Linked DNA regions of Homo sapiens: all the other regions are linked to region 1. Evidence: fine-mapped QTL for protein levels in blood plasma. Region 1 holds a variant in brackets. A gene starts in each other region. All regions are shown on their forward strands.

Region 1 (4,076 bases):
GATGTAATAATGAAATAAATTTAAAAGCAATATCCAAATTATTATTGAGATTCTAGAGGACATAGAATTATTTAATCTTTATTATTCAATTTTGGACCTCTACTACTGGTACATAATCGGTATTCAATAACTGCTCTTTAAAATAAAAATCTAATCGAATTGAATTTGCTTATCAGGAACATTCTCACTGACTCCACCCATATTCTCCATCTTTCCCATCTCAATGGCATAATTTATAATTTTGCTGAGGCATGACTTTTTGTTGAGCCTCAGATTTCATTGATGTTGACATTGTGAATGATATCTTCCTTCTTAATATTCATTTTAATCTGGGCTCAGGACTACCATACTTTCCTATTTCTCATATCTCTCTGGGTCTTAGCTCTTTTTAATTTAACTGTGAGTGTTTCCCAAAACACTTCTGGCCTTTCTTCTCTTCTCCCTCTGTTCCCAGTGCCTCAGGGAGCTTATCCACTTGCAAAGCTTCAGCTACTAATTTACAAATGACATTTAAATAAAAAAATCTCTAACCTTGGCTTTTTACCCTTTCTCTAATAGCACATTTCAACTGTTTTGCAAGCTTTCCCATTTAATTCCTCCAACTACACAGTCACAAAGAGAGTTTATTCCTGTCTCCACAGACAGCCTCTCTTTTCCATGACTTCCAGCTTTCAGTCACCTTTAATCCTAGTCCTCTGCCTCTCCTTTCGTACCTCTGCAGGGAGTCCATTCTCTCAATTATCCTGTGTCTTTTCTGCATTTCTACCTCTCCTTCTCACATCTCAAATGCTATTCACACACAGTTACACATACCCATACCTCTCTCCTTTTGCCTGTAACTACTACCATCTCTTTTTCCTTCTATTCAGAGTCAAACATCTTCCAAGACTCTCCATTTCATGTCCAGAAACCAAGCATCATAACTCCTGCTTTCGTAATGATTGTTCTCCTCTTTCTGTCCTGCTACCACTGCTTTAGTCGAAAGCCCCACCGCTTCTCTCTTGATTATTACAATATTCTTCTGTTCTCTCTTGTCATCTTTTTATTTACTCAGACCACAGTATGTCCTGAAAGCAAAACTACAGTAGTCACTTAACTCCTGTGCTTTAAAATCATTCTAAAGGGCACGAGAATACCCCAAGGTTTTGGTAAAGCCTAAAAAAGGCCTTCCTGTTACTCACCTCCCCAGGTGATGCTCACCTCCCCAGTTCTGACCCCTTTTCCACTCTCTTATAGACTTTAGGCATTCTGAACTACATGCAGTGCCCTGAATGTCCATTTTTTTTCCACATCCGTACATTTGGTCATGCTGTTTTATCCTCCTGGAAACCCCTATTCCCCCCTCCCCACCTATCTCTCTTCATCTCACTAAGTCCAATACTTATTTAAAGACTCTGCTCAAAGTCACTTCCAAGGTAGACCTTCTCTGAAGCCTCCTGTCTGGAATAGATAACCACTCTTGGAGTATTTCCCTGGTGCTCTAGGTTTACTAGGATAAGAGCACTGATCACATAACTGTGAGCTCCTGTTTGCTTGTCTATCTCCCCTGCAGACCATATGCTTATTATCTATTTTTTATCTTTCTATCCTTCCCACTTAGAACAATGTCTAGCTTATACTAAGAGCTCAATGAATAACATTGAATGAATCAGCACATT[A/T]ATTTTTTCCTTTCACTTTTCTCCATATCAGGAACAGCTGCACACCCCTCCTTATTCAAGACCCTGCATCCTTCCTGAGGCTTTACATCCATGTCTGTTTCGTCTGTGATCTTGCTTCATCTGCCTAACTCAGCAGAGCAATTACCACAGGAAATGCTATCTTGTACCTGTTTTATTTGTTTATAGACTTGCACTTTTATTTTAGTCTCGTTTGAGAGGAAACTTCAGTAGGACAAGATAACTATGTCTATTTCTTCAGTTTTTATCTCATAAGGAGATATGCCCATGATGGTTTCTTGAGAAAAGTTGACTAATTTCGGTGTAAGATTTGCAACCCTTGGATGCAGCTAGGAGGATGAGGTGTTGCGCCTAGTGAGGCAATTATGATTTGTTTACAACAGACTCAGTTTTAGATCCCTCACTATGACATGGGTGAAGGCCAAGAAGGTGTTCTGCTCTACCATGCTTTCTGTGAAGTCTCATCCAGCCTCACACGTTCCAGTGACAAACCATCTGGGAAATTCCATCTGTCTCTGCTTGGAAACTGAGGTGGCAGTCGCCCACTGTGAGCAATTTTCTATTAACTTCTTGGATAAGATCAGTCAGATTTATACTGAATTGATGGGAACCGTAAGAGCAAGATTGTTCCAAGAGAAGACAAATGTACTGATTCCTCTAATTGGGCTTAAGCCAGTTTCATTCACAGACGCCCTTAGGTTCTAGTAGTGCAAGGACTTATAACCTTTTTAATTGTACCCTGTTCCTCTTGGGAAACATTGGTGAAATTCATTATTGATGGAGGTTGTAGATTTGTCCCTTAGGGAGGGCAAGATCCTGGCTTCTCTTATACTCTATCTGCTATGTGGAGAATTAATGGAAACTGAGTGGACAGAAAAGCTGCTCAAAGAAGACTTGAAGGCAAGAAATGTAATGCAGCAGAGCCTTGGAAAGTGATGCGTTGGTTTGGTTTCTAGAATTAGGGTAGGGTTTTTGTTGTTTTATTGATTTTTATTTTTATTTATTTTTTTTTTGATGGAGGGGGATTACTCAGGGAAAGAGGAGAAAGAAGTTTGTGTGGAGGCCTCAGTAATCAAAGGCCTGCTATTGAATGTGAGTCAGAAAGGAAGAAATTAAACACCGAAGAATTATTTCACAATTGAAATATGTAGAAGCCAGAGAGGTCAATTGCATATTAATCTGAAGGGATTTGCTGTGTTATAATGCAGATATAGTTATGATGTTGGCAGTGGATGAAAATACATTGTCATATGGCACAATGGTATTGAAATGAAAACCTGAATTTGTGCCCTTCCTGATAATTTTTACTTGCCTCCAAAATAATACCTTTTGTGTATAGCTAGCCTGTTAACCTCAATCTCATCCTGACTTACTTTTTCTCCTGATGGTGAAGTCTTTCCAGGTTCTTTACATTTGGACTTGGATTTGAAAGGTGGAAACACAATTCCTTGCTATACATAGACAATTTTATTTATGGACCTAACTTACTCTCCTCTGCCTGAAATTTTAATACATTTTGGCCTTTGGTTTATATGGCTAAACCTATTTACCCTTAGTTAGGCCAAGTTTGAACTTTTAAAAAGAATTATTTTTACAAGATTATTCATTGTTCCCTTTTCCCAGAACTCCAAGGAGAACTTTTGTTGAAGATGATCTTTTCAGTTATTAGGACGATTAGTGCTATTAATTTAATTAATTTCTGAAAGGAGGAATTGTTTATGTCATCATAAGATGATCAAAGCTGATCCACTCTATGTGTGTAAAGTTGAGACAAATGAGTCACATAACCTTTTCCCACAGAGGATCGGTGTGAAGGATGAAGAATCACTATTGATTTATAGCTCCAGATACTGTTTGTGGGAGTTGTGATTGTTCCCACACATAGGGATCCTTACATGAATTTTCTTAATGCAGATTTCATTGCTACTGTCATTTCTTCGTATTTGCCAAAAACAGAATCATGAAGGCCTAAGGTGGAAGTGGGTGGATATATAGCATCCCTGCCTCTCTAGGGAAATCTATCACCATCTTGACTAGTGAGGAAGTGGTTTGTAAAGCATAACTATTGTTTTTGTAACACAAATTCTAAAATATCAATCTTGAAATGTAGTTTTCCCTGGAGGGGAAGGTAGAAGTAACAAAGCACTGTGAGGAAGAGTTGTTCATGGAGTTGACCAAACTGTCCTCTGTTATGTGCTGATAGGTCTGGCATGCCTTTTAAATTCTTTCTATTTGATGTTTTTGAGGAATTGTCATTCTATACTGATTTCAAAACAATTAGTTTGGCAGGATATGCTTACATGGTTGTAACAAATATTGTGCCAGCATTATGAGGACTTAGCATCAATCTCAGCTTGACATGACAATTAATACATTCAGTAACTTGGAGATGATAACAGA
Region 2 (4,000 bases), not on the chromosome of region 1:
TCTGGCCGCGGATGGCCTCGATGCGCTTCCGCTTCACCAGCTCCATGTCGATAGTCTTGCAGGTGGATAGTCCCGCGGCCGGCCGGCCAGGCGTCAGCACCAGTAGCCACAGCAGCGGTAGCAGCAGCGGCAGCAGCCGCAGCCCGGAGGGCGGCATGGGGGAGGCGGCGCCCCCCGGCACTGCCGAGAGCGCGAACAGGGCTGGTGTGGTGGGGAGGCCCCGCCCCTGCAGGGGCTGGGGGTCTCCCGGCAAAAGGTAGGAGGGCCTCGAGGGAAAGCTGAGGTCCTCAGGGAGAAGGGCGCAGTGGTGGAGGGGAGGCTTGGACCGGGGGTGTCTCAGTATCCCACGGAAATAACCTAGATGGGCGCGATCTGGTACCAGAAGGTGGGTGGTCTTGAATAGGGGATCTGTGGCAGGTCGGAGAGAGATCCGTCTCCTGGAGGAGAAAGGGTCTAGGATGCGCGGGGGCTCAGGAGACAGGCCGGGGATGAAGGCGGCGTGCAGGGGGTGCGCCCGAGGTCTGGGGAAAAGTCTTTGCGGGAGGCCGGGTCGGCGACTCCCGAGGGCTGGTCCGGAATGGGGGCGCCTGAGGGACGCCGTGTAGGGGGCAGGGAGGGAGCAAGCGTCCCCGGCGGCAAAGGGAGGCGGTCTGGGGTCCCCAAGTCCTGCCTCCTCGCGGGGCAGCGTCGCGCCAAGAGGTCCCCGCGCCTCCGGCTCCCAGCGGCAACGGAAAAGTCTCAAAAGTTTTTTTCCTCTTCTCCCGACCAGCTCGTCCCTCCTCCCGCTCCTCCTCCCCCTCCTCCCCGCAGTGGCGGGGGCGGCGGCGGCTCGTCTCAGACTCTGGGGCCTCAGGCTGCTCCTCGGCGACTCCTTCCTCCGCTCCGGGCCGAGGCCGGCCCCGCGGGCGGCTCAGAGCCGGGGGGGTGCCCCGGACGGGGCGTCCCCCCTGCCCCCGGCCGGGGCCCTCGCTGTCTGGCTGCTCCGCGGAGGGAGGTGGGAGGGAGATGGCCCAGGGCGCGAAGGGCGGCGGCGGCGGGGACCGGCTGGGTCGGCAGGGGGTTTTGAAGCCGCCCCCGGCCCCACCCAGGAAGCGCACGGGGCGGGAGCGGGGGCGGCCCCCAGGGGGAGGGCATGGGGGGGCTGGGCCACCGTCCTCATCTCGCGTGGGCGGGCTCCGAGGGGGGTCCCTTCAGCCCTGGGGGAAAGGGGGCGGGCACCCCGGCTCCGCCCCGCAAACAGGGTGCTGCCTCCTGGCGGCCAAGCGCCACCAAAGCGGGTGATCCAGATGCGCTGTGGCTTTGCGGGCGGTGTGGGTCACCAGAGAAAGAGGACCAGGCGGAGAAGGCTTAATCCGGGGGATGAGACACAGGGGAGCCGACCAGAGGAGGGGGACCCAGAACGGAAGGAGAGTCAGGCTGGGAAACAAGGTAGGAGAAGAGGGTCTGTCAACATGGGGGCCTCCGGAGGGTGTCAGTGGGAGGAGGGGGCAACAGGACACCTGAAGGATGGAAGGGTCAGGAGGCAGACACCTGTAAGAATTGCTCTCCTTTACTGAGCACCTCCCATGTGGCTAAGCAGCCTCCTGTCACTCAACACCCTGCGACCCCATACATTTACTGTCCCCAATTTACAGATAGGGAAACTGGGCCCAGAGGGACCCCGAGGTCCTAGAAAGGACAGAAGCGGTGCCATGCCTTAGCTGGGGTCAGCTCTGACAGTCTCTAGAGTCTGTGCTCTTGACCACTGTGCCATCCTCCCCCATCACTGGGTGTCCGGGGTGTGGATGGTGGTGACGTTGGAGGCAGAGTCCCTCAGCACTCCACGCCGTAGCGGTCGAAGTTGCGGAGCAGCAGGCCGATCTCCAGGTGCACGGTGCCACCAGCAGCTGTGTGCAGGCGATAGCGGTCGGCCCCACTGTAGATGGTGTCCCCATGCAGCAGCTGCGGCCCACCACCCACGAAAGCCCGTGCCAACTGTTCTCGCCAACTGCCCAGGGGCCGCCACGTGGGGCAGGCCAGCTGGTGGGTGCCCGGGCTACTGGGCACATGGCAAAATCCATAGCCTGCAAGCTGGCAGCGGCCAAAGCTGTCCTGGGACCACACCTGGAAATGGAGCCGGGGCCAGCCTGCAGGAAAGGAGAGAGAGGGGAAAGGAGGGATGGGTGGGGACCAGACTCCTGCTGATTCCCCACTCCCTGATACTCACTGGAGACCCCAGGCCCAGTCTTTTCCTCTCTGGGTTTCTGTCCCAGAGTTTCCAACCCAGCCTCCTTTCTAGGCTCCCACCGTCTTATCTATCCCCACACAGCAGCCAAAGTGATCTTTCCAAATCCATGTTACTCCCCTGCTAAGGATCCTTCCATAGCTCCCCAGTGCCCTCAGTATAAAGTCCAACCTCTTCAACATTCAAGGCCCTTCTAATCAGACCTCTGCTGAATTTCCTCTCTGTGTTATCCTCCTCCATGACCCCATGTCAGGGCAGCCCATTGCTCCTCCAGTCCCCAGGTAACCATCATGGGCCTTGTCAGGGACACCTCCTGCCTTCCCTCATGTCCCTGCCCTGCTCTCTTTGGGCCCAGGGCCTTCTTTCTTGCCCCTCTCTAATCCACCTTCCACCTGGCATCTGGAAGCATCTTTCTCTCCTTCCATAGCTTTGCCCATGTCCTCAGAACACAGTTCAGCTCCTCAGTCTGGTAGTCAAAGCCCTTGGAGATCCAGCCCCATCTCATCTCATGCTGATCCCTTCTCCTGTGCTAGACTCTGTTCTAGCTAGCTGGGGACACGGCAGACATGAACATGGATGGCAGACAAAAATTCCTGCCCCCGTGAAGCTGATATCCTAGACAACGAATGTAGTAAATAAGCAAATTATAGGGTAGATCAGATGGTGGTAATTGCTGTGAGGGAAAACAGAGCTGGGTAGGGTGAGGGTGGGGATACCGCTTTAGCAAGAAGGGGATCAAGGAAGCTTCATTAAGAAGGTGACATTTGAGCAAATGCTAAAAGGAAGGAAGGGAGTAGGCCATGTGGCCATCTAGAGGAAGAGTGCTCCTAGCCAGAGGGAACAGCAAGTGCCAAGGCCCTGGGGGGGGACTGTCTGGTGGGGACAGTATGGCTGGAGCCCAGACGGAGTGTGCCTGGTGGGGACAGCATGGCTAGAGCAGAATGAGGTGGGGAGACGGGAAGGAGGTGCCAGCCTGGTTGTGGAGAGCCTTGTGATGCATGCTAAGACTATGGCTTTCACCCTGAGTGAGATGGGGACCATTGGAGGGTTCTGAGCAGAGCAGAGATGGGACCTGACTTAGGTGTTCACAGGGTCCCAGCTGCATGTGGGGTGCAGACCAGGGGGGTTGGGGAAGGGGACTCCAGAGACAAGATTCTTGTCATAGTCCATGTGAGAGAAGAACTTGGACAGATCAAGGTGCTGGGCGAGAAAAGGGTAAGAAGTGGGATTTAGGATGTATTTCAAAAGTAGAGGCAGTTTAAGATTTCCTGATGGACAAAATGGGGGCTTGAGAAAAGAGAAAGCAAGGCTGGTGCCACCACTGGGGGACTGGAGGCCCCAAGAGCTGAAAGGTTAGAGCTGCCCACCTCACCCACACAGCACCGGAAAGATTTTTTTTTTCCCCAGCTCCAGCTTAAAAGACAGAAAGATTATTTAAAAGTGAAATCTCAGCCAGGCGCGGTGGCTCATGCCTGTAATCCCAGCACTTTGGGAGGCCGAGGCAGGTGGATCACCTGAGGTCAGGAGTTCGAGACCAGCCTGACCACCTTGGTGAAACGCCATCTCTATTAAAAAAAAAAAAGGCAAAAATTAGCCAGATGTGGTGGCACGTGGCTGTAGTCCCAGCTACTCGTGAGGCTGAGGCAGGAGAATTGCTTGAACCTGGGAGGCAGAGGTTGCAGTGAGCTGAGATCTTGCCACTACACTCCAGCCTGGGCAACAGAGTGAAACTCTGTCTCCAAAAAAAAAAAGGTGAAATCTCACTTGTCCATTACC
Region 3 (4,076 bases), not on the chromosome of region 1:
TCCTTGGAAAGGGTGTGAGGCTTCTTCCCAGGATGCTGGGTGCTTGTCACTGACCCTGGTGCTGAACAGATCTTCCTCGGGTGCCCAGAGGGTCGAGTTTGGCAGGACAATCCCCCCACCCCGACTGCAGGCAGGCTGCCAGACTAGGAGCAGAGGACTTCTGAGTTCTCAGTGACTTCTGTCACTACACCCTGAGGGGTGAACCTCAAATTTTCCCAATGTCATCAGGGGACCATAGACCTGCCTTTGAAGTAGCTTGGAAACAGGGACAGATGTTCCTTGGAAAGAGAGTCAGACTCTAGCAATGAATAAAAGGCACTCATTTACAAGGCTTGAGTGGAAGCTCAGAAGTCCTGGAGCCCAGGCATCAGAGAGACATTGAGACAAGTCCATTGGTAAGAGTGAGAGTAACAAGAAGGGTTTCTGCATTCTGCTTCAGGAACAACACCAGCCATTTATCCATTCACTCACTTAATCCAAAAACTATGTATTGAAGGCCTACCATGTGCCGAGATATATTCCATTAAAGAAAAGAAACAGAAACCTCTGTCCCATGCAACTTACATCCCAGTAGGATGGGGGTGGGGGTACAGGTGGGAGACAGATAGTAAACAGCAGACATAAGTAAGCGAATGGCCTAGCATGTCAGAGGATATAAGCATTTCAGCAAAAAAAAAAAAAAAAAAGAGCAGAGGAAGAGATGGGGATGGCATGCAATTTGACTTCACTGAAAGATGTAATCTAAACAAATACATATATATATTTATAATATATATAATATATATTATTATCTATAATATATATAATATATATTATTATCTATAATATATATAATATATATTATTATCTATAATATATATAATATATATTATTATCTATAATATATATAATATATATTATTATCTATAATATATATAATATATATTATTATCTATAATATATATAATATATATTATTATCTATAATATATATAATATATATTATTATCTATAATATATATAATATATATATTATAATATATATAACATATATTATATATAATATATATATTATAATATATATATTATATTATAATATATATTATAATATATATATTATATTATAATATATATTATATTATATATATTATATAATAATATATATATTATAATATATATATTATATTATATATATGTTATATATATTATAAATATATATTTTATATATATATAATATATATTTATAATATATATAATATATATTTATAATATATATAATATATATTTATAATATATATTATATATATTATAAATATATATAATATATATATATATATATTTTTTGAGATAGAGTCTTGCTCTGTTGCCCAGGCTGGAGTGTAGTGGTGTGATCTTGGCTCACTGCAACCTCTGCCTCCTGGGTTCAAGTGATTCTCCTGCCTCAGCCTCCCAAGTACCTGGGACTACAGGCACCTGCCACCACGCTCAGCTGATTTTTGTATTTTTAGTAGAGATGGGATTTCACCATGTTGGCCAGGCTGGTCTCGAACCCCTGACTTCAAGTGATCCACCTGCCTCGGCCTCCCAAAGTGCTGGGATTACAGGCGTGAGCCACCACGCCCGGCCTAAAAAAGTTTGAAAAAGGTGAAGGAGTGAGTCCTGCAGGTATCTGGGGACAACATTCCAGGCTGAAAGAACAGTCCGTGCAAACCTCCTCAGGAAGGAGCATGTCTGTCTGGTTGGTTTGAGGCATAGGGAGGAGGCCAGGGTGGCTGGGGCAGAGTGAACCAGGGAACCAGGAGATACAGGTGGGCAGAGAGCAGGGCACAGAACTCGCGGGGCCTCGTGGCTGCTGGAGGGTCTTGGACTTGTCCTCTGCGTGAGGTGGAGAGCCACGGGGACGTTCTGAACACGGGAGATTCATGGTCCCTCTGCTGCTGTGCTGAGAATACACTGTAGGGGGCAAGGATGGAGACAGGGAGAGCACCCAGAAGGCAGTTGTAGGAAGCCAGGGATTGATGCTGGTTTCTGGGTGTATTTGGAAAGCAGAGACATGAGCTCACCCAACAGATGGGAAGTTGGGGGCGAGAGGAAGAGGCGTCAGGGATAGCGCCCAGGTTTCTGGCCCTAGTAACCGGAAGGAAGGGGCTGGCAGAGAAGGAGGAGAGAGCAGGTGTAGGGGTGGGTGGGAATCAGAAATTCAGCTTCAGACTTGGGGGGTTGGAGCTGCCTATTTGGTATGGCGAGTAGGCAGCTGGACGTAGAAGGAGGCTGGAGTTTGCGAGAGAAACTTGGGAGTGGTTGGCATATAGATGATATTTAAAGTCAGAAACGTGTACTATTTGCCAGATATAAGCAGTAAGGCAGTTGATGCAAACCAAAGCCTTCTAATGTAATTATTGTTATTATTTTCATTTTGCAGCTGTAGAAACTGAGGCTCAGAGAGAAGTGACTTTGAGCTCACAGTGTCACCGCCTGCTGATGGGAGAGCTGAATTCAAAACCAGGTGACCTGACCTAGAGTCTTTGCTCCTAACCCCTCCACTGTGAGGTGACCCCCTCGCTGGATCTTTCAGGGCATGTGTTAGATGAGCGGTGGATGGACTTTGGATCAAGGGAAGATAATCCATACAAGAAGGGGACAGGAGTTTGGAAGCAGCAAACCAAGTCACAAAGTGAGGGGACGCACTGGCCCTCAAGAAAGCTCAATGTTGGGGAGCAGGGAGATGAGACTGAATAGGAAGGAGGGGCTAGATGGAAGGTACAGCTTCAAGATTGGCCTGAAAAGTTTTGACTGGATGGGGAAGGAAGCAGGGAGCCATTGACGGTTTTGGAGGAAGGGGGCATTACATGGTCAGGGCAGCCCTTGTGAAAGATCCACCACATGTGGGCATGCAGCTGATGAGGGAGGTGTCAGGAGAGACCAGAGAGGAAGAAATAGGCCCAGAAGTTTTTGAGACTCTCTGGGTGTGAAGGATGAGGGCTGAGCCAGTGGAGATGAGAAGGAAGCAAGGAAGCCAAGCTCCCACTGAAGACAGCGCTGGGCAGAGTCTCTGCCTGATGTAATGTGGGGGATGGAGGCGAGGAATGAGTCAAGGGCAAAGTTTCAGACTTGGGGGCAGATGGGGAGATGGGAAACAATGCTGGCTTGAACAGAAAAAAAGGAGGCTGGTGTGAGAGGGAACTCGGTTTTGCCCTTCTGGTACCTGGGGCTGAGTGAACCATAGCAGGACAGACTTCTGCTTCCCAGCAGCTCACAGGTTAGTGTGGGGGACAGAACTGCACAGAGCTGGCCAGGCTGCAAGGCAGAGAGAGCTGAGGGGTGCCACAGAAAGATGGGCCGGAAGGAGGAGTGTCCAGGTGGGTGTGTCTGATTAGTTACTGGTCAGGGCTGGAGACAGAGATTTAAGAAGTATTTATCAGGCCAGGTGCGGTGGCTCACGCCTGTAATCCCAGCACTTTGGGAGGCCGAGGCAGGTGGATCACGAGATCAGGAGATCGAGACCATCCTGGCTAACACGGTGAAACCCCGTCTCTACTAAAAATACAAAAAAAAAAAAAAATTAGCCGGGCATGGTGGCGGGCGCCTGTAGTCCCAGCTACTTGGGAGGCTGAGGCAGGAGAATGGCGTGAACCCGGGAGGTGGAGCTTGCAGTAAGCCGAGATAGCGCTGCTGCAGTCCAGCCTGGGCGAAAGAGCAAGACTCCGTCTCAAAAAAAAAAAAGAAGTCTTTATCCAGAGGTAAAAGATCTGGGGTAGATGATGTCAGGGAGGAAGGGAAGGTTGCTTGAGGCAAAAACAAAGTCTAGGACAGAAGCCCAGGCTTGCTCCTGCCACCAGCTAGCTCTGTGCCCATGAAGCAGATTTATTTTGTTGTTGTTGAAATGGAATCTTGCTCTTTTGCCCAGGCTGGAGCGCAGTGCCACAGTCATGGCTCAGTCGTGCACCACCATGATTGGCTAATTTTCATTTTATTTTTTTTGTAGAGACAGAGTCTCACTATGTTGCCCAGGCTGGTCTCAGACTCCTGGGCTCAAGCGATCTTCCCACCTCAGCCTCCCAAAGTGCTGGGATTACAGTGGACCAGTTGCTTAAACTA
Region 4 (4,076 bases), not on the chromosome of region 1:
ACAATGTTCCGGTTGTCAATCTTCAGGAGAGTAGCATTCATGTCAGTGCAGTACTGCTTACTCTCTTCCCATGTTAAGTTGTGCCTGAAGAACCCATAGCAGCTATCTCCATAATATCTCCAGTTTGTGTCACAGGGGCTGCATTTATGACCTTCTGGAGAAACCAAGCACAGGAATGGTGTATTTTTTCTAAATTGGGCTTACATTTTCTTCACATTCAATGTTTTCTGCAGATCTCAAACTCCCTTCAGTTGCCATCAGAGAAATGCTCCAGGGGTTGGAGAGATGAAGAGGTTAAAAAAACAATACTTACTGAAAGTGCCCTTTAGTTCTGATTGTTTTACCACATATTGACAGAAGCGCTTTGCTAATTGTTGCAGAGTTCCTGTGCGATTTTCATTCTCACCTTGTAGGTAATTGCGCTGCATGACAGCTAGGTTTAAAAAGTAAATAATAATAATTTGTAATTAGAACCATAGAAATGATGCAAAGGTCTGTCATTGAATTTTCATTTCCTTAACTTTGCCAATATATGAGGAGTTTACTAGATACACATGATTAAATGAATGTTGAAAAGTGTGGAGGGGCTATAAAGAACAAATTAAGAAATACACAGAACTGACGCCTGAGGGTTAATAAGTGAACTGTTTGAAGGAGACAATCACAAATAAAAAATCCCAACATCGATAACATCCCCAGAGCCTGTATTCATTTGCTTGAATACAAGCTTCTCAGCTGAGTTATAGAGGTGAATGACCTCTTATTTTCTGTTCTTTCTGTGATGCCAAACTATTCATTCATTTAAAAATACATACTGATTTCTTGTTATGCTTAAAGTACTTGTGATATTCAGGTAAATAATAAAGAAATACAAGAGGATAAATGTTAGATTCTAACATCTTTTAAAAAAATCAACAAATACACAAACAAGCAACAACTACACAGACTTCAATGTGCTATTGGAGGGCCATGAGAATTACAGAAAGAAGAAATGCACAGTAACTTAGTAAACAAAATGAGAAACAGAAAATTTTAGGTAGAGAGAATAGAATGAGAAAAATTTCAGACAAGGGAACATGGAATTTATATATGAAATTGAAAAACTCCAGTTTGGCTGGTTCTTAGGAATGCAAGATAGGAAAAGGGATGAAAAAGTTTTTAAAAATAGTTTGGATCCACACTGAGGAGGGTCTTAAAGGCCAGTAGTACATTCTTAAAAATAACTTTTCATTAGTTAAAATCTTAAAATCTTATTTTAATCACAAGGAAACAGTCAGTGTTCTCCTTTATTGAGATTCTCTTGGCAACTATCTGTAGGACAACTGTAGAAGTGATAAACAGACAAATAGCGACCATTGAGAAGCTTAGTGGGATATGCCATGACCCTTCAGTATTACCTTCCTCCAGTCAAATTTCTGGCAGAGTCAACACTTACACCAAATCCCCAGAGCCACCAGCCCGACAACCATCCCCACGCACAGGATCAGCAGAATCAAAGCCATCACACGCCACCAGGAGGAGGATGCAGAGCCAACTGTAGGCATATAATAAAGACATCAAGGAGCAGGCAGTATGGGTTAGCTATGGGGAAGGCTCACCCCTGCCCCTGCCCCTGCCTTCTCAGGGTCCTCCAAGTAATAGAAAGAGCTTTGCTGGCAGATCTCACCTGTGTTCTCCTCATGATCATCAACAATAGGCATGGCCCACCCCTATACCATACATCCATTCTCATCTCCAATGCACTTTACCTCTCCAAGCTGAAATATTACTTGCTGTTAAGGCCTGATGTGTTTGTATTTTTTGTTTTGTTTTGTTTTGTTTTGTTTTGTTTTATGCTCACCCATGCCATAAATAATTGCTTTAATAAACAGCAAATGAAGAATCACACTCATTTGCTCACATATAGAAAATGAAATTTCCACTCTTTTCCGTTATCCCCTTGACTTCTATGCCCTCGAGTATTAAACGCTCAGAATCTTAATGCAATTTTCCCTGCACATATATTGGATGTTTGTAATCTAAATAGGTCTGTATGAGCTTATGAAAACACTACTCAAATGCTTTAGAGCATTAACATCATTCAAGAAAAAGAAATTAAACTATATATATTATCAATAGTAGAAAAAGAAAGAATTGAATCAACTCATTTTTTAAATTAATTTCCAAATTATTGGCTCTGAGCATTCTTACCGGAGATGAGAGCTGGTTTCCGAGTTTTAATATTTAAGGTGATGTATCCATCTTCATCCTGCATGGCTTCCCGAGTACTGCAACTGAGCTCAGAGTTCAATGACTTTGCAAAATGTAGTTTCCAACTTTACAATTTCAGTATCTGTCAGTTTATGATCTTCCTGTCTTTAGTAGGGTAGAACCATGTGAGATGGGACACATTTGTTTTCCTTTGCTTATTGTTTTCCAGGAAGCTTCTTCATAGCTGCTCAGAGATACATGGACCTTGAACACAAAAACACAAAAATAATAATAACTTGTGGTAAAGGAGTAGATAAGGTATTTGCTTCCTGCTTTTTTTTTATCTTCAACACTAAATAAAGGGACATTCCATCATGTGCATCCTTTCTAAGAACAAAAGTTCATGCTTTATCTTAGCCCTAGCTTAGTCTAAATTACATTGCTCAAATGAGAGATTTCTGCTGAAAATTCATGGATATAGCTCACCAGCAGATATATAGTTTATCTCATTGTGAGAAGCAAGTGTAATATAATTGGATCTGATAGGGGCTAAATTAGCTGTTTCATAGTCTTGTGTTGGAAGAGATCATTCCTGATTATGACCTAGAATTTACACAACTTCTTGCATATTTCATACTTTTTTTTATTTGAAGGATCCACATGAGGCAGGCCTGATATTGCTTAGATTTAGGTATTGAAGGAAAACTATCAAATCAAGTAAAATAATACAGAGTTGGTGACTTGCTGCATTGTTCTTTAGTAGTGTTTGTGCTTTAAAGTGAGTTTCCTGGAATGGAAGAATTTTGATTTGATGAAATCACTTCATTTCAAGTACAGCTGTGCTTAGATGAATATTTGAGACTGAATGGTTCCTAGCACCTTTTCATCACAATATAATATGTATTGCACACACTTAACTTTATGAAATGGGCTTTTACATTATTTTAGCTTGCACTGAAAGTAGTTGTAAGAACAGCCATACAAAGCTAGCTGATGCATTTATTATAGGAATATTGGGGAGGATGTTGTCTATTTTGCCATAGGGTAACTCTTACATAGTTTTATGGCAGATTTTTATTTTTGTTAAATCACCATGACTAGCAAAGCTTTAAGTAGTAGGCATTTACCTTATAAATAATTTGAATTCTATTTTTCTTTACTTAGCAGAGTGTTAGACTTTTCAATATAGTGATTATGTGGGCTGCAGTAGCAGATATTTTGTTTATTAACATGCCCTTTGGCATAGCCCGTAGATTTTTTCTCCCCTGCTATCTCCTTCACTCTGAATTTCTTGTCAATTCACTTAAAATTATCTTTCATTCTAAATTTCTTTCTCTATACTCTTCAAATTATTTTGAGAATGAGGTGAAGAATAAGCATAACACGTATAAAAGACATTCCCTGATTTTGGAAAGCCAAACTTAGTATGATTCAAATATTTTTACCAAAACTAATTCTTAATTAAAAAAAAACACATTTGAAATAAATGCCAAATTTTAAGAAAAGACTAAAAATTTTTAAAAAACATTAAATCCCAACACCATTTTTGTTGCTGTGTTTCTTATCTCAGTTAAAATATTCAGGGGTTCCCAATCATAAGCTGGGTAAATTCAGTCACTTACCATTCATCTACCACTGCTTCTGTTCTCATAACTTCTGTTTCAGCTAAAAGGGATTCTTCGCTCTCCCATCATTTATCCTCAGGCTTTTCTGGAAGATTGGGGTTGGAATGGGGTTTGATCCTCCCTCTCTTCCTTCCTTTCTACATCTACTCATCAGCAAGTCCTGAGGCTATTCTGTCACAGTAACCCCTGTCTTTCACGTTCTTTTGGTCACTGCTTTCCTTCAGTGTTTTGTTACCTAAAATATACAGAAACACTAAAAAA
Region 5 (4,076 bases), not on the chromosome of region 1:
GGCTGAGGTGGGAGGATCCCTTGAGCCCAGGAGGTCAAGGCTGCAGTGAGCCAAGATCACTCCATTGCACTCCAGCCTGGGCAACAAGAGCAAAACTTCCATCTCAAAAAAAAAAAAAAAAAGAAATAATCTAAAAGTGTTTTCAATAATAATGCATTTATGTTGATTACCTTGTTGGCTATCCTCTACTCGTGTGCCTGCCCCACTCCATTCCCCTTTCTAGAGTCTGTTCACGTAACTCCTCTTCCAGGAAGCCCTCTTTGACTCCCAGGCTTGGTCAGGTGTCTTCTCTGGGTTTCCCCAGGGGCTTCCTTCCTCTCAATTCTGATGCTGCCTGTGCTAAGTATTTGTCTCCATATCTGTCCTGAGAACCTTGGAGCCAGGGCTCGGGGCTGTTTTTGCATGGGCCTATCACCTCCTCCAGGAAGCCCTCCTTGGCCCTCTCTCAGGCTGGATGGGAAAGCTGTCTGGGCTCCCATCATGCCCTGGTTTTCTAGCGACCCAGCCTCTGATCCCTAAGCTTGGCCTTCCCCATCACAGCTTTCATCACTTTGTGCTAAGCTTCCGCTATCACTACTCTGGGCCGTTCCTGTTTGGTGACTCAGGGACCAGTCTGGCATGGCCACCGCTGGGTCCCCAGCATTAAGCCCTGGAGCATGAGCCCAGTGAACTTTGAAATTCAGGAAGGAATTCACAGGAAAGCTGCGGCGAGGCGGGCAGAAAACCACAGGCTTCCAAGAAACGCGTGTCTGCCGCCCCCTCCTCCCACCCTGAGGCCAGTCCTAGAGCGAAGGCCCTCCTCCGACGTCGTCACCAAGCCCAAGGGAAGGGTGGCAGGTGCTCAGCGGGCAGACGCCCCGCCCCGCCCCGCCAGGTTCTGTTGGGGGCGAGGCCCGCGCAAGCCCCGCCTCTTCCCCGGCACCAGGGGCGGGCCCAGGTGCGCCCAGGGCCGGGGAGCGGCCGCGCAGGTGCCTGCCCTTTGCGCCTGCGCCCAGCTCGCCCTGCCTAGCCAGGTGCGCCCCGCCCCCTGCCTGCCCGGCCACCTTCGGGAGCCGCTTCCAATAGGCGTTCGCCATTGGCTCTGGCGACCTCCGCGCGTTGGGAGGTGTAGCGCGGCTCTGAACGCGCTGAGGGCCGTTGAGTGTCGCAGGCGGCGAGGGCGCGAGTGAGGAGCAGACCCAGGCATCGCGCGCCGAGAAGGCCGGGCGTCCCCACACTGAAGGTCCGGAAAGGCGACTTCCGGGGGCTTTGGCACCTGGCGGACCCTCCCGGAGCGTCGGCACCTGAACGCGAGGCGCTCCATTGCGCGTGCGCGTTGAGGGGCTTCCCGCACCTGATCGCGAGACCCCAACGGCTGGTGGCGTCGCCTGCGCGTCTCGGCTGAGCTGGCCATGGCGCAGCTGTGCGGGCTGAGGCGGAGCCGGGCGTTTCTCGCCCTGCTGGGATCGCTGCTCCTCTCTGGGGTCCTGGCGGCCGACCGAGAACGCAGCATCCACGGTGAGGGCCGGGCGGGTAGGCTGGAGGCGGGGCGCAGGGGGCAGAGGCTCGGGGGTCAACGGGGGTCTGAGCAGGGAGAACTGGCGGGGGAGGAAACTGGGGGCTACTTGATGGCGTTCAGCGGGTGTGGTGGAACCAGCCCTGGAGGATTGAGCCTTGAAATGAGGTTTGGGAGCCTTCGACAGCGAAGACGGGCGGAGGAGCGAGGGTTAGGAGAGTTTCCTTCGGGTGGAGGAAGAGTCAAGGGGTATTGACCAAGAAGGCGTGGCACTGCCCCTTCCTGTGGCAAGAACGGGGTGAGGAGCCGAATTGAAGACCAGCCTTCTCCTGGCGGTGGAAAGTTCCATGGCCAAAGCTCAGGGAGAGGCCAGGCCTGTGAGATGGTGGGGGTTGGGTTGGGTGACCTGGTGGCCGTTTTAGACTCGGAAGAAGCCCATCTCACCCCTGCCTCTTTGGAGATTGGACAAGAGCCTCCCCTGAAGTTTTTGTAGTTGAGTTGCAGTAAAGTAGGTGCCCGAGAAGGAGGGAGCAAGAAAGGAAACAAGCTTTGGGGAAGAGGAAGCTCTGCTAAGGCTCGAGAGAGTATTGGCGTTGAGCAGCTGGTGTTGGGGTCTTTGGATTGGCCCTTAGAAGTCGGTGGTGAATAAGGTGATTTAAACTTCTACACTCTTAAGGAAGTGTGGTCTGAAAGGTCTCTTTGAACAAGTGTTGTTATAACCTTAACTGCTTCAGACAAGCACCAGCGTGTTTTGAAAAGAGCTCTCTTGAAAGCAAGAATTCATTGATTCAGCAAAACTTACTGAGGCCCTGCTACGTGTCAGGCACTGGCGCTGGTTATAACAGTTAACTCAGACTAGCTGGGTTCCTGCATTCACAGAGCTAATATTCCAGTGGGAGAGGCAGAGCTAGTGAAGGTTTAAAAAGCACTTGCCATGAGATTAAGTTACTGAGAATTAAATGAACCAGGTGAAGTACACCAACAGGGTGACGTAAGATGTTGGGGGCGGCTTTAGCTCAGGTGGTCGGGGGACGTCTCCGTGAGGAGGGTGACATCTGAGCTCTAACATGAAGAATGAGGCAGTAGCCACACGGAGACCTGGGGGACCAGTGTCCAGTTGCAGGCAATAGAGTACAAAGGCCTTGAAGCTGGAACAAGCTTGGTTGGGTTCAGGGAAAAGACAGAGCCAGCCTGGCTGGAGCAGGCGTGAAGGAGGGGAGGACTGGAGGAGGATGGGAGGTGGGAGAGGTTGGCTGCAGCCAGATGGCCTAGGGCTTTATAGACAGGTGCTGGTGCTTGAACCCGGGAGGCGGATGTTGCAGTGAGCCAAGATCGCGCCACTGCATTCCAGCTTGGGCAACAAGAGTGAAACTCCCATCTCAAAAAAAAAAAAAGAAGGCCGGGTGATGTGGCTCATGCCTGTAATCCTAGAACTTTGGGAGGCCAAGGCGGGCAGATCACTGGAGGCCAGGAGTTCAACACCACCCTAGGCAACATGATGAAACCCCGTCTCTACCAAAAATACAAAAATTAGCTGGGCATGGTGGTGCACACCTGTAGTCCCGGCTACTCGGGAGGCTGAGGCAGGAGAATCGCTTGAAGCCCAGAGGCGGAGGCTGTAGTGAGCTGAGATCAAGCCACTGCACAGCAGCCTGGGCGACACAGCAAGACTCAGTCTCAAAAAAAAAAAAAAGAGCAGGCTAGGTGTGTACCAAGTCATCACCTGTGGTAACTTCTGGGGACTGGTTAATTTCTCTGTGCCCTAGGCAGGAGAAAAAAGTGAATTGGTGGGGAGAGGCTCAGCTGTAGGTGACTGGGAGTCAGGAATGCAGACGTTGATCATTCTTGCAATTCGAACCAGAATTTGGCAGCTCTGCTGGACTTTTTCAGTTTAAGTAATTACGTTAGGATGTACCTCCCAGTTACCTGGCCTCTTGCTACCTCTGGTGCTTACTCTGAGCTGGGACATGGCCTCTTGCTACCTCTGGTGCTTACTCTGAGCTGGGATGTGCCATTTAACCTTTGAAACAGCCGGGTGCGGTGGTGAAGTTACTTGCCTTGCCCGAGGTCACTCGGTAGTAGTAATTGACAAAGCCAGGTCTCACTGCAGAGGCCTTCTCTGTTCAGAGTGGCCTACCTGACTGCTGCTGCCGACTGGACCTACTGACCTTTCAGAAGTACTAGTGTCTGACTGGGTGAACTCATGCCCTCACTCATCGTAAGTTCTGTTTGTTTGAAAGCTTGAACAGCTTAATCGGAGGCAGAAGGCAGTTTTGACTTTTTTTTCCTCGCTCCTTCCTGATTGCTTCTGTTTTCTCCGGAAGCGAGTCATCCACTGGGAGTGTGGTGTTGCTGAAGCTCCATGCAGTGGCTCAGGTGCTGCTGGATGAGTGTGGTGGTGAGGGAGGAGTGAACAGAGAATGTGTGAGGGAGGGAGGATGGGGGTTGGTCAAGGAATTTATTCTGTATGAAAACATGAGGGGGCGGAGGGCCGAGGTAGATGGTAGGGCCAGCAGATTGTTGGAGTTGAGGTTCTGAAGGGAATGAACCAGACAGATAGGATGCAGTGGGTAGTGAGTGA
Region 6 (4,076 bases), not on the chromosome of region 1:
GTTGAGCCCCTTGTCATGTGTTTATTGGCTATTTGTATATTTTCTTTGGAGAAGTGTCTGTTCAAATCTTTTCCCATTTGAAAATTAGATTATTTGTTTGAATTGTAGGGAATACAAGTTATTTTACTGCGTGTAGCTGCTCCCCAGGTTTCTGGATGCCATTGTTAAAAAATATCATGACTTAGATTTTATCCCCGTGCTCCTGGAATCCTCAGGTTTCTGTGACACAGAGTTCAAGTGAGAGTTCAATCATTCTAGGGACTACTCAGCACCACAGTAGCACCTACAGAGATCATCTGGAGGGAGTGATTTTGTCTCAACAGACGGATCTTCAATGAAGATGAAACAAATCCATTTTGGAGAGAGATGTTAGAGAACTGATGGCGTTCAGGACATGCTACCCAAAAATAATGGTACCTTGGCACTTAAGAAAAGAGCAGAAGCAAGAGGGTTACTTTCACTTTCCCCAGATCTTCTCTTCTGAGGCAGACCATAAGACCTTCATTCCAGAGGTGCCTTCCCTATACCTGGAGGAAACAGACATCCTTATCTCTGAAGACACACGGACAGGGAAAAGAATCTGAGCAAATAGGCCTTGCTAAGTAAGTCCCCCCAGTTTATTACCATTAGATCACAGATTTGTCCAATCATACTTCTCCATGACTTCCACTTCTTTATCAATCCTAGCCTTAAAAATACACAGGCTTCCCTCTTAACTTTGGGTCTTAATTTCTGAAGTCTCCTGTTTTGTGTAAAACTCACATAAATAAGTTAGTATGTTTTTCTCTTGTTAATGTGTCTTTTGTTACAGGGGCTTCAGCCATAAACCTAGTAATGAATGGGGAAATTTTTTTTTTCCTCCTCTATAGAACATATACCAACTGCAAGAAGAAAGAAGAATATGCCTGGTTTTGGGCCTGGCGCGGTGGCTCACGCCTGTAATCCCAGTACTATGGGAGGCTGAGGCGGGCAGATCACCTGAGGTTGGGAGTTCGAGACCAGCCTGACCAACATGGAGAAACCCCGTCTCTACTAAAAATACAAAAAATTAGCCCTGCGTGGTGGTGGCGCATGCCTGTAATCCCAGCTATTCGGTAGGCTGAAGTAGGAGAATCGCTTGAACCCAGGAGGTGGAGGTTGCGGTGAGCCGAGATCGTGCCATTGATCTCCAGCCTGGGCAACAAGAGCAAAACTCTGTCTAAAAAAAATAAATAAATAATAAAAATAAAAACAGTATGCCTGGTTTTAAAGCTTCAAAGAATTTACTCATTCTCCTGTATGTAACATTCTAGAAATGCATCTGGAGTTAAAGCCTTCTTGGAGACTTAAGAACAAATGCACTTATGCATGGCCTTTTGAAACCTAATGTTTCTACAAGGAGGCACGTCCATACTTGCAACTCCTTCTAGAAGCTTCCCCAAATCTCCTGCCTCCCCACGCTGAGTTATCCGATGTCTGAAATGTCACAGCACTTAGTCTTACTCTTCTATGGCCTACTTTCTACTGCTATTTGTGTTACTCATGCTACCCATCTTATCTCCCTCAGTGTGTGAGACGCTGGCATCAGATTTGGCATCTCCCACACACTCAACATTATGTGTTGCACACAGTAGGTACTCAATACATGCAAGTTTTCTGAATAGATATTTTCCTAGTCATCTGTGGCACCTGCTATATCCTACTGAAAATTACCAAAATGCAATTAACTTCAATTTTACATTTGGGATTTACAGAAAATAACTCTCTCTCCAAGAAATGCATAACAATTTAGCTAGGGCAAATGCCAGGTCCGAGTTAAGACATTAATGCGCTTCGATCGCGATAAGGATTTATCCTTATCCCCATCCTCATCTTTCTGCGTCGTCTAATTCAAGATAGGTCAGTAAAGGAAACCTTTTCGTTTTAGCAACCCAATCTGCTCCCCTTCTCTGGCCTCTTTCTCTCCTTTTGTTGGTAGACGACTTCAGCCTCTGTCCTTTAATTTTAAAGTTTATGCCCCACTTGTACCCCTCGTCTTTTGGTGATTTAGAGATTTTCAAAGCCTGCTCTGACACAGACTCTTCCTTGGATTGCAACTTCTCTACTTTGGGGTGGAAACGGCTTCTCCGTTTTGAAACGCTAGCGGGGAAAAAATGGGGGAGAAAGTTGAGTTTAAACTTTTAAAAGTTGAGTCACGGCTGGTTGCGCAGCAAAAGCCCCGCAGTGTGGAGAAAGCCTAAACGTGGTTTGGGTGGTGCGGGGGTTGGGCGGGGGTGACTTTTGGGGGATAAGGGGCGGTGGAGCCCAGGGAATGCCAAAGCCCTGCCGCGGCCTCCGACGCGCGCCCCCCGCCCCTCGCCTCTCCCCCGCCCCCGACTGAGGCCGGGCTCCCCGCCGGACTGATGTCGCGCGCTTGCGTGTTGTGGCCGAACCGCCGAACTCAGAGGCCGGCCCCAGAAAACCCGAGCGAGTAGGGGGCGGCGCGCAGGAGGGAGGAGAACTGGGGGCGCGGGAGGCTGGTGGGTGTGGGGGGTGGAGATGTAGAAGATGTGACGCCGCGGCCCGGCGGGTGCCAGATTAGCGGACGCGGTGCCCGCGGTTGCAACGGGATCCCGGGCGCTGCAGCTTGGGAGGCGGCTCTCCCCAGGCGGCGTCCGCGGAGACACCCATCCGTGAACCCCAGGTCCCGGGCCGCCGGCTCGCCGCGCACCAGGGGCCGGCGGACAGAAGAGCGGCCGAGCGGCTCGAGGCTGGGGGACCGCGGGCGCGGCCGCGCGCTGCCGGGCGGGAGGCTGGGGGGCCGGGGCCGGGGCCGTGCCCCGGAGCGGGTCGGAGGCCGGGGCCGGGGCCGGGGGACGGCGGCTCCCCGCGCGGCTCCAGCGGCTCGGGGATCCCGGCCGGGCCCCGCAGGGACCATGGCAGCCGGGAGCATCACCACGCTGCCCGCCTTGCCCGAGGATGGCGGCAGCGGCGCCTTCCCGCCCGGCCACTTCAAGGACCCCAAGCGGCTGTACTGCAAAAACGGGGGCTTCTTCCTGCGCATCCACCCCGACGGCCGAGTTGACGGGGTCCGGGAGAAGAGCGACCCTCACAGTGAGTGCCGACCCGCTCTCTCCGCCTCATTTCCATTTCGTGGGTTCTCGCCCGCTCTCTCCCCTCCAGCCTGCACCCTCCTCCCGGATCTTCACTGCGACCCTAGCGCTCCGTGTGGTTTCTGGCCGCGCGGCCCTCGGCGGTTTCGGGTTCACCACTCACCCCCTCCTTTCCGGGCTGCGGCGTAGGCCCGGGTGTCCCCTGGGCTTTGGGGTGTGCCAATTTGCCCTGTAAACCAGTACCCCCGGCCCGGAGCCGCGGCGCGCCGGGGCCTCGCGGACTGGCTGTCTTCCCGCGGACAACCTGTCGCGTCGGGGATGCCCGCGGCCCCGCCATGCAGCTCTGGCCGCTTCTATCTGCTGCGTGCTGTCCCGGGGACAAAGACAGGAAGGACCGCAGCAGAACGAAACGGTCTTTACTGGAAAAACACCTTTCTAGAGTCCTGCCCTTAAATTCCGACTCGGGACGACCCGAGGCATATGGCACACTACTCTCACCCACTCTGTTTTATATTTTTCCGAATTGACGAAAGCTGAAAGAGCAAAAACAAAAACCAACCAGCCAACCAGCAAAAAATCCAGATGTTGTTAATAAAGTGCCATAGCTTTGTTTCAGTAGTGAAAAGAAGTGCAAACACTTTAATCTTCCACCTGCAGTGACTAGCTTTGAGACCTTGAGCCGACGCTTAACCCCAGAGCCGGTTTCCTCATCGCTCACGTGGGGCTAATATATTACTACCTTGCAGCAGGCTTGAGGATGAAATGAGAATTGCAGTTTTGCTTTCTGTAAGAAACAATGTTTGTGGTTCTAGAAAGAACACTGGCCTAAATAAGGAGTGCTTGGACTTTAGGGGATTCCCTAAGTCTGGAGTGGGGGCTGAAGATTTGCATTTCTAACATGTTCCCCGGGGATGCTGATCACATCACACTTTGAGAGCCACTGGTCTAGAGGAAAGAGAAAGAAAGGGGCATAAGATGAGCCGATTTACAACACTGATGGAATTT
Region 7 (4,076 bases), not on the chromosome of region 1:
ACCGCTGCCGGCAGCCCGCCCCACCCTGGGCTCCTCCCCACACCCGCTCGGGCAGCCGGGAGCCACCTACAAACTCCAGGACTCGACCCCAGAGCGCTGGCCTGAGCCGCCCCTGCTCGCCCCCAGTCCCCGCCTCTCCCTCCCTCTAATGCCCCCGCCCTCGACACCGTCGCCCCCCCGCCCCTGCCTCTCGCTCCCCACGTCTCTCGGCACCCCCGCTCCCATCCGCCCCCCCGTCCCCGCCTCTCGCCCCCATCCGTCCCCATTTCCAGCCTCCCCCTGACCCCGACTCAAGCCCCCCGACTCCGCCTCTCGCCCCTCTCTGCCCCCGCCTCTCACTCCCCTCTCCTTCCCCGCCCGCCTCTCACGTGGAGGTTGGGCCGGACCCGCCCCGCCCCACAGAGCCCGGGTCCCGCCCCCACGTGGCTGGCAGCTTCCTGGCCCTATCATTTCTGCGCTGGCTTCAGCGGCTCCGCCCCGGCGCCGTGCCAGGGGGCCGGACACTCCAGTCGCGCGGCACAGGCCTGAGGCCGCTGAGGGCCACCCCGTCCCCTGCCCGCCCGCCGGCCTGCTGGGATTGGCCGAGCGCCGGCCTCCGCCCGAGCCCGCGCGTTATGTAACGCGCCCCGGGGGCCCCGCCCCCTCGCCCTGGCTTATATAACCCGGGCGCACCGGCTCGCGCCCCGCCCCAGGGCCAATGGAGGCCTGCGGAGTCGGCCCCGACGACCAATCGCACGGCCCGGGGGCGGGACCGGTCACGCGGCGGCAGGGGGCGCGGCGCCGGCTGCTGACCGGCACGCGGCGAGCCTCGAGACTGCGCGAGGGCGGCCCCGGGGGCGAGCGGCTGTGCGCGGGGCCAAGGGCGGGGGCAGCAGGTGAGTGCGCGGCCGGGCGGGAGTTCTGGGCGGCCGGGCGGGAGTTCTGGGCACTCGCGCGCGGCAGAGGAGCCCCGCGAGCCCTGCCCTCGGTACTGGGGGCCCCCGGAGCGTGGCGCTTCCGAGCCACCCGCCTCCCCGGGCCCCATCCCTCGGCGCGCGGGAAAGTTGGGGCAGGGGTGAGGACCGCGCGGTCGGGGCGCCCCAGCCAGCCGGGCCGCTGGCGTCGGACTGTCTGTTCCATTTGTCCCTTGTCACCCTTGTCTCCTCCCCCTAGGCCGGAGTCCTGAAAGTCGAGCGAGCTCCGGGTTTTGAAAATGTTGGAGGGAAAAGCTCCTCGGAGATGAGCGTGACCCCCTGGCTCGTGGTGGCCGCCTGTTCTCACTAACGCCATGGCGGGGACCGGAGTGAGAAACCGGTGTCTGTCACTGACTGCAAAGTGAGCGAGAAGCAGGCTGCGGGCCGTCCCAGCACGACGTGGAGCCCCGCGGAGACCTCGAGATGCCCCGCGGGGAAGCTCCTGGCCCCGGGAGACGGGGGGCTAAGGACGAGGCCCTGGGCGAAGAATCGGGGGAGCGGTGGAGCCCCGAGTTCCATCTGCAGAGGAAATTGGCGGACAGCAGCCACAGGTGACGCGCTGGCTTCAGGCCGAGGGCCCCATGCGTTCGTTGTCCTTCCCTGGAGCAGGGAAAGGGGGACCTAAATCTTTTTATTCTTTTGTTTTCAAGCCCAGGGGAAAGTGTAAAGGGGAGACTCGGGCAATGTAGGATGAAGTGATCCGTGACACTGAAGAAAATTACCGAAGAGTATCAGGAGGGAAAAGTGGTTACAAAAGTTAGCTGAGTTGGGGCTCAAGTGGATTAAGGGAAAGTAAGTGGAGAATGTTTGTCATTCACCAGTTGCTTTGCCTCGAGTTCCCCACCTAGAGGAAGAGGGGTCACCACCCTGTGGACTGATGCCGGTAGAGCACTTAGAAACTTACCTGGCTTGCAGTTTGTGTTCCCTAAGCCGCAAGATGCTGTTGTCTTCAGAGGATGAAGTTGTAATTTTTTTTTATCTTCCAGTGAACAGCAAGATCGAAACAGAGTTTCTGAAGAACTTATCATGGTTGTCCAAGAAATGAAAAAATACTTCCCCTCGGAGAGACGCAATAAACCAAGCACTCTAGATGCCCTCAACTATGCTCTCCGCTGTGTCCACAGCGTTCAAGGTAAACAAGCCGGAGAGAAATTTCATCCTACGAATGCACCAGGACTCATACAAGCAGCCAGAGGAGTGGTCAGTGGGGTCTCAGTCAGACAAATAATTTGAGCTTTTTCTGGTGCTTTGTGGAAGATGAGCAAATCTACACCGATTCCATTCGTGTCTTAATTGTTCACATGTGAAAGACCAGGAAAACTTTATCTGTATAATAGTGTATAATACCTATGCAATGTTTTGCTCATGTGTTGCAAGAGAGTAGAGTTTAGCATAAGCACATTTTGAAGGCTGACCTTTTAAAGAAATATTGTCTTCTATGGAAGTTATGGGAAAAAAATGCATTCCACGAAATAGTTACCTTTACATGCCGTACACATACTTTCAAAATGCAGTAATGAGGCTGGGCGCGGTGCCTCACGCCTGTAATCCCAGCACTTTGGGAGGCCGAGGCGGGCAGATCACGAGGTCAGGAGATCGAGACCATCCTGGCTAATACGGTGAAACCCCGTCTCTACTAAAAATACAAAAAATTAGCCGGGTGTGGTGGCGGGCGCCTGTAGTCCAGCTATTCGGGAGGCTGAGACAGGAGAACGGCGTGAACCCGGGAGGCGGAGCTTGCAGTGAGCCGAGATCACGCCACTGCACTCCCGCCTGGGTGACAGAGCGAGACTCTGTCTCTAAAAAATAATAATGATAAAAATGCAGTAATGATATATCAGGAATTTACCAAACTAAAAATGAACCATTGTAAACACTTTTTCTCTCTGACATTTCCAGGGATTTCATTAAAGCCATATTCTCTTTAGCACAAACCTCAGTGCTTCATATATGATATGTTCCTGAATGACAGAGTACTGTTTCTGCTCCCCCCGCAAAAAAATTGTGTATGCATCTGAAATTTTTAGTTAGTACCTTAAATGTATCTTGCTTCCTGTGATCCAGAACATGCAGAATTCATAAAATCAAATCTTAAGTTTGCACAACTATCAGTATTTTAGGTAAAAGCAGAAAATGATCTGTTTTTGAGAAAAATGCACTGAGGTGTTCTCATCCGAAAAAAATAATCCAGCTTGATAGTGATGAAATGGTTTCCTAAAGATACTGTTGTCACTGGACTACCTGTTTATCTCCCTGTGTTTCTTAGCAAACAGTGAGTTTTTCCAGATTCTCAGTCAGAATGGAGCACCTCAGGCAGATGTGAGCATGTACAGTCTTGAGGAGCTGGCCACTATCGCTTCAGAACACACTTCCAAAAACACAGTAAGAATTCATGCATTTTGCCATATCAACCTGGGTGACTTTTCCTAAGGGCCTGCTCTAGATGTAGGCTTTTAAGAAGGATAACAACGTTTCAGCAACCACAATTTGAGAGAAGCAAAGGAGGAACTGCTAAAGAGGCATGGTGTAGCTTCTCCGCCCTTGCCAGAGAAAACATCTAAAAGCAGAAGCAGCCCGTTCTGTGTGCTGTGCAGCTCAGTGACTTTGGTTATGAGGTGCTTCTAGCTCCTTAGCATTCCCAAGCTCTCTTGAATTAAGAGAAAACAAAAATTACACTGCAGAGTAATTTCCTGCACCTTATTCTAATCTCCGAATTGTTAATTTCTATTTATATCATTCTTAGTTCCAATACCTACTACTTCAAGTTGTAACAACTGGATGTTATAGAACAGGTGAGTTGAGATGCTGTCATTTTTCCTAAAATTTTGGAAGAGACCTTTAGTATATCTTTTTTAATCTCTCTTCTTGTTTGACAGAGTAATCTTCATGTTTGGTTGATACGGTGGAGATTACTTATTTTAAGTAACATAATTGTTACTTAAAGATTTTGTAATAGTGGAACGTGCGCAATCCCTAGTATTATAACAGTGCTTATTTTATGGACTGGTGTGTACATAGTACTGTAGGAGGTGCTATGGAGATTTTTAAAAATAGCTTAAGAAAATATTTGTCTTTTAAGATATTTAAAATAAAGCTAGAGAGGAAAGTATGCCAATGCTAGCA

Direction of the effects. Positions count from the first base shown, and alleles are read on the strand shown. Strength reflects both the effect of a copy and how common the allele is.
As copies of A replace T in region 1, the plasma level of the protein whose gene starts at base 1,035 in region 2 goes up (moderate association).
With allele A in place of T in region 1, the plasma level of the protein whose gene starts at base 2,415 in region 3 is higher (moderate association).
In carriers of allele T in region 1, the plasma level of the protein whose gene starts at base 2,275 in region 4 tends to be lower than with A alone (moderate association).
In carriers of allele T in region 1, the plasma level of the protein whose gene starts at base 1,072 in region 5 tends to be lower than with A alone (moderate association).
For the plasma level of the protein whose gene starts at base 2,551 in region 6, allele A in region 1 goes with a higher level than allele T (moderate association).
With allele A in place of T in region 1, the plasma level of the protein whose gene starts at base 790 in region 7 is higher (moderate association).

Evidence for each region. PIP is the chance, under the fine-mapping model, that this variant and not a neighbour inherited with it causes the effect. Protein levels are from antibody-based Olink assays in UK Biobank. Linkage for the fine-mapping came from a reference panel and not from the study's own genotypes, which makes the PIPs less certain.
Region 2: it holds the start of TGFB1, and the variant in region 1 is fine-mapped to the plasma level of the TGFB1 protein (UK Biobank, PIP above 0.99).
Region 3: CCL17 starts here. The variant in region 1 is fine-mapped to the plasma level of the CCL17 protein (UK Biobank, PIP above 0.99).
Region 4: it holds the start of CLEC1B, and the variant in region 1 is fine-mapped to the plasma level of the CLEC1B protein (UK Biobank, PIP above 0.99).
Region 5: it holds the start of SPINT2, and the variant in region 1 is fine-mapped to the plasma level of the SPINT2 protein (UK Biobank, PIP above 0.99).
Region 6: it holds the start of FGF2, and the variant in region 1 is fine-mapped to the plasma level of the FGF2 protein (UK Biobank, PIP above 0.99).
Region 7: PER3 starts here. The variant in region 1 is fine-mapped to the plasma level of the PER3 protein (UK Biobank, PIP above 0.99).

What each region holds. Positions count from the first base shown.
Region 1 is chr8:105,567,642-105,571,717 of GRCh38, forward strand. All of the region lies in intron 4 of ZFPM2 (zinc finger protein, FOG family member 2), which reads left to right. Among named protein-coding and RNA genes, the nearest start is that of ZFPM2, 250 kb to the left of the region's middle. The variant A/T (reference allele first, on the strand shown) is at 1,659.
Region 2 is chr19:41,352,888-41,356,887 of GRCh38, forward strand. It overlaps TGFB1 (transforming growth factor beta 1), which reads right to left and starts at 1,035. Exons shown (of 7, transcript NM_000660.7): 1 at 1-1,035. The coding sequence starts at 157. It overlaps B9D2 (B9 domain containing 2), which reads right to left. Exons shown (of 4, transcript NM_030578.4): 4 at 1,530-2,126. The coding sequence ends at 1,813. RefSeq lists silencers at 1-47, 208-287, 588-657, 808-1,337 and enhancers at 1,338-1,487, 1,411-1,912.
Region 3 is chr16:57,402,353-57,406,428 of GRCh38, forward strand. It overlaps CCL17 (C-C motif chemokine ligand 17), which reads left to right and starts at 2,415. Exons shown (of 4, transcript NM_002987.3): 1 at 2,415-2,484.
Region 4 is chr12:9,996,847-10,000,922 of GRCh38, forward strand. It overlaps CLEC1B (C-type lectin domain family 1 member B), which reads right to left and starts at 2,275. Exons shown (of 6, transcript NM_016509.4): 1 at 2,191-2,275; 2 at 1,436-1,534; 3 at 314-433; 4 at 1-154. The coding sequence starts at 2,254. It also overlaps a transcript of CLEC12A not described here.
Region 5 is chr19:38,263,502-38,267,577 of GRCh38, forward strand. SPINT2 (serine peptidase inhibitor, Kunitz type 2) reads left to right here and starts at 1,072. Exons shown (of 7, transcript NM_021102.4): 1 at 1,072-1,497. The coding sequence starts at 1,392. RefSeq lists an enhancer at 1-620 and a silencer at 777-1,096.
Region 6 is chr4:122,824,281-122,828,356 of GRCh38, forward strand. FGF2 (fibroblast growth factor 2) reads left to right here and starts at 2,551. Exons shown (of 3, transcript NM_001361665.2): 1 at 2,551-3,072. The coding sequence starts at 2,895. RefSeq lists promoters at 1,410-2,592, 1,761-2,728, cis regulatory regions at 1,785-1,855, 1,856-1,894, silencers at 2,394-2,873, 3,214-3,508 and enhancers at 3,094-3,173, 3,456-3,981, 3,854-3,993, 3,982-4,076, 4,034-4,076.
Region 7 is chr1:7,783,502-7,787,577 of GRCh38, forward strand. PER3 (period circadian regulator 3) reads left to right here and starts at 790. Exons shown (of 22, transcript NM_001377275.1): 1 at 790-875; 2 at 1,153-1,504; 3 at 1,940-2,085; 4 at 3,220-3,335. The coding sequence starts at 1,377. RefSeq lists a silencer at 256-865.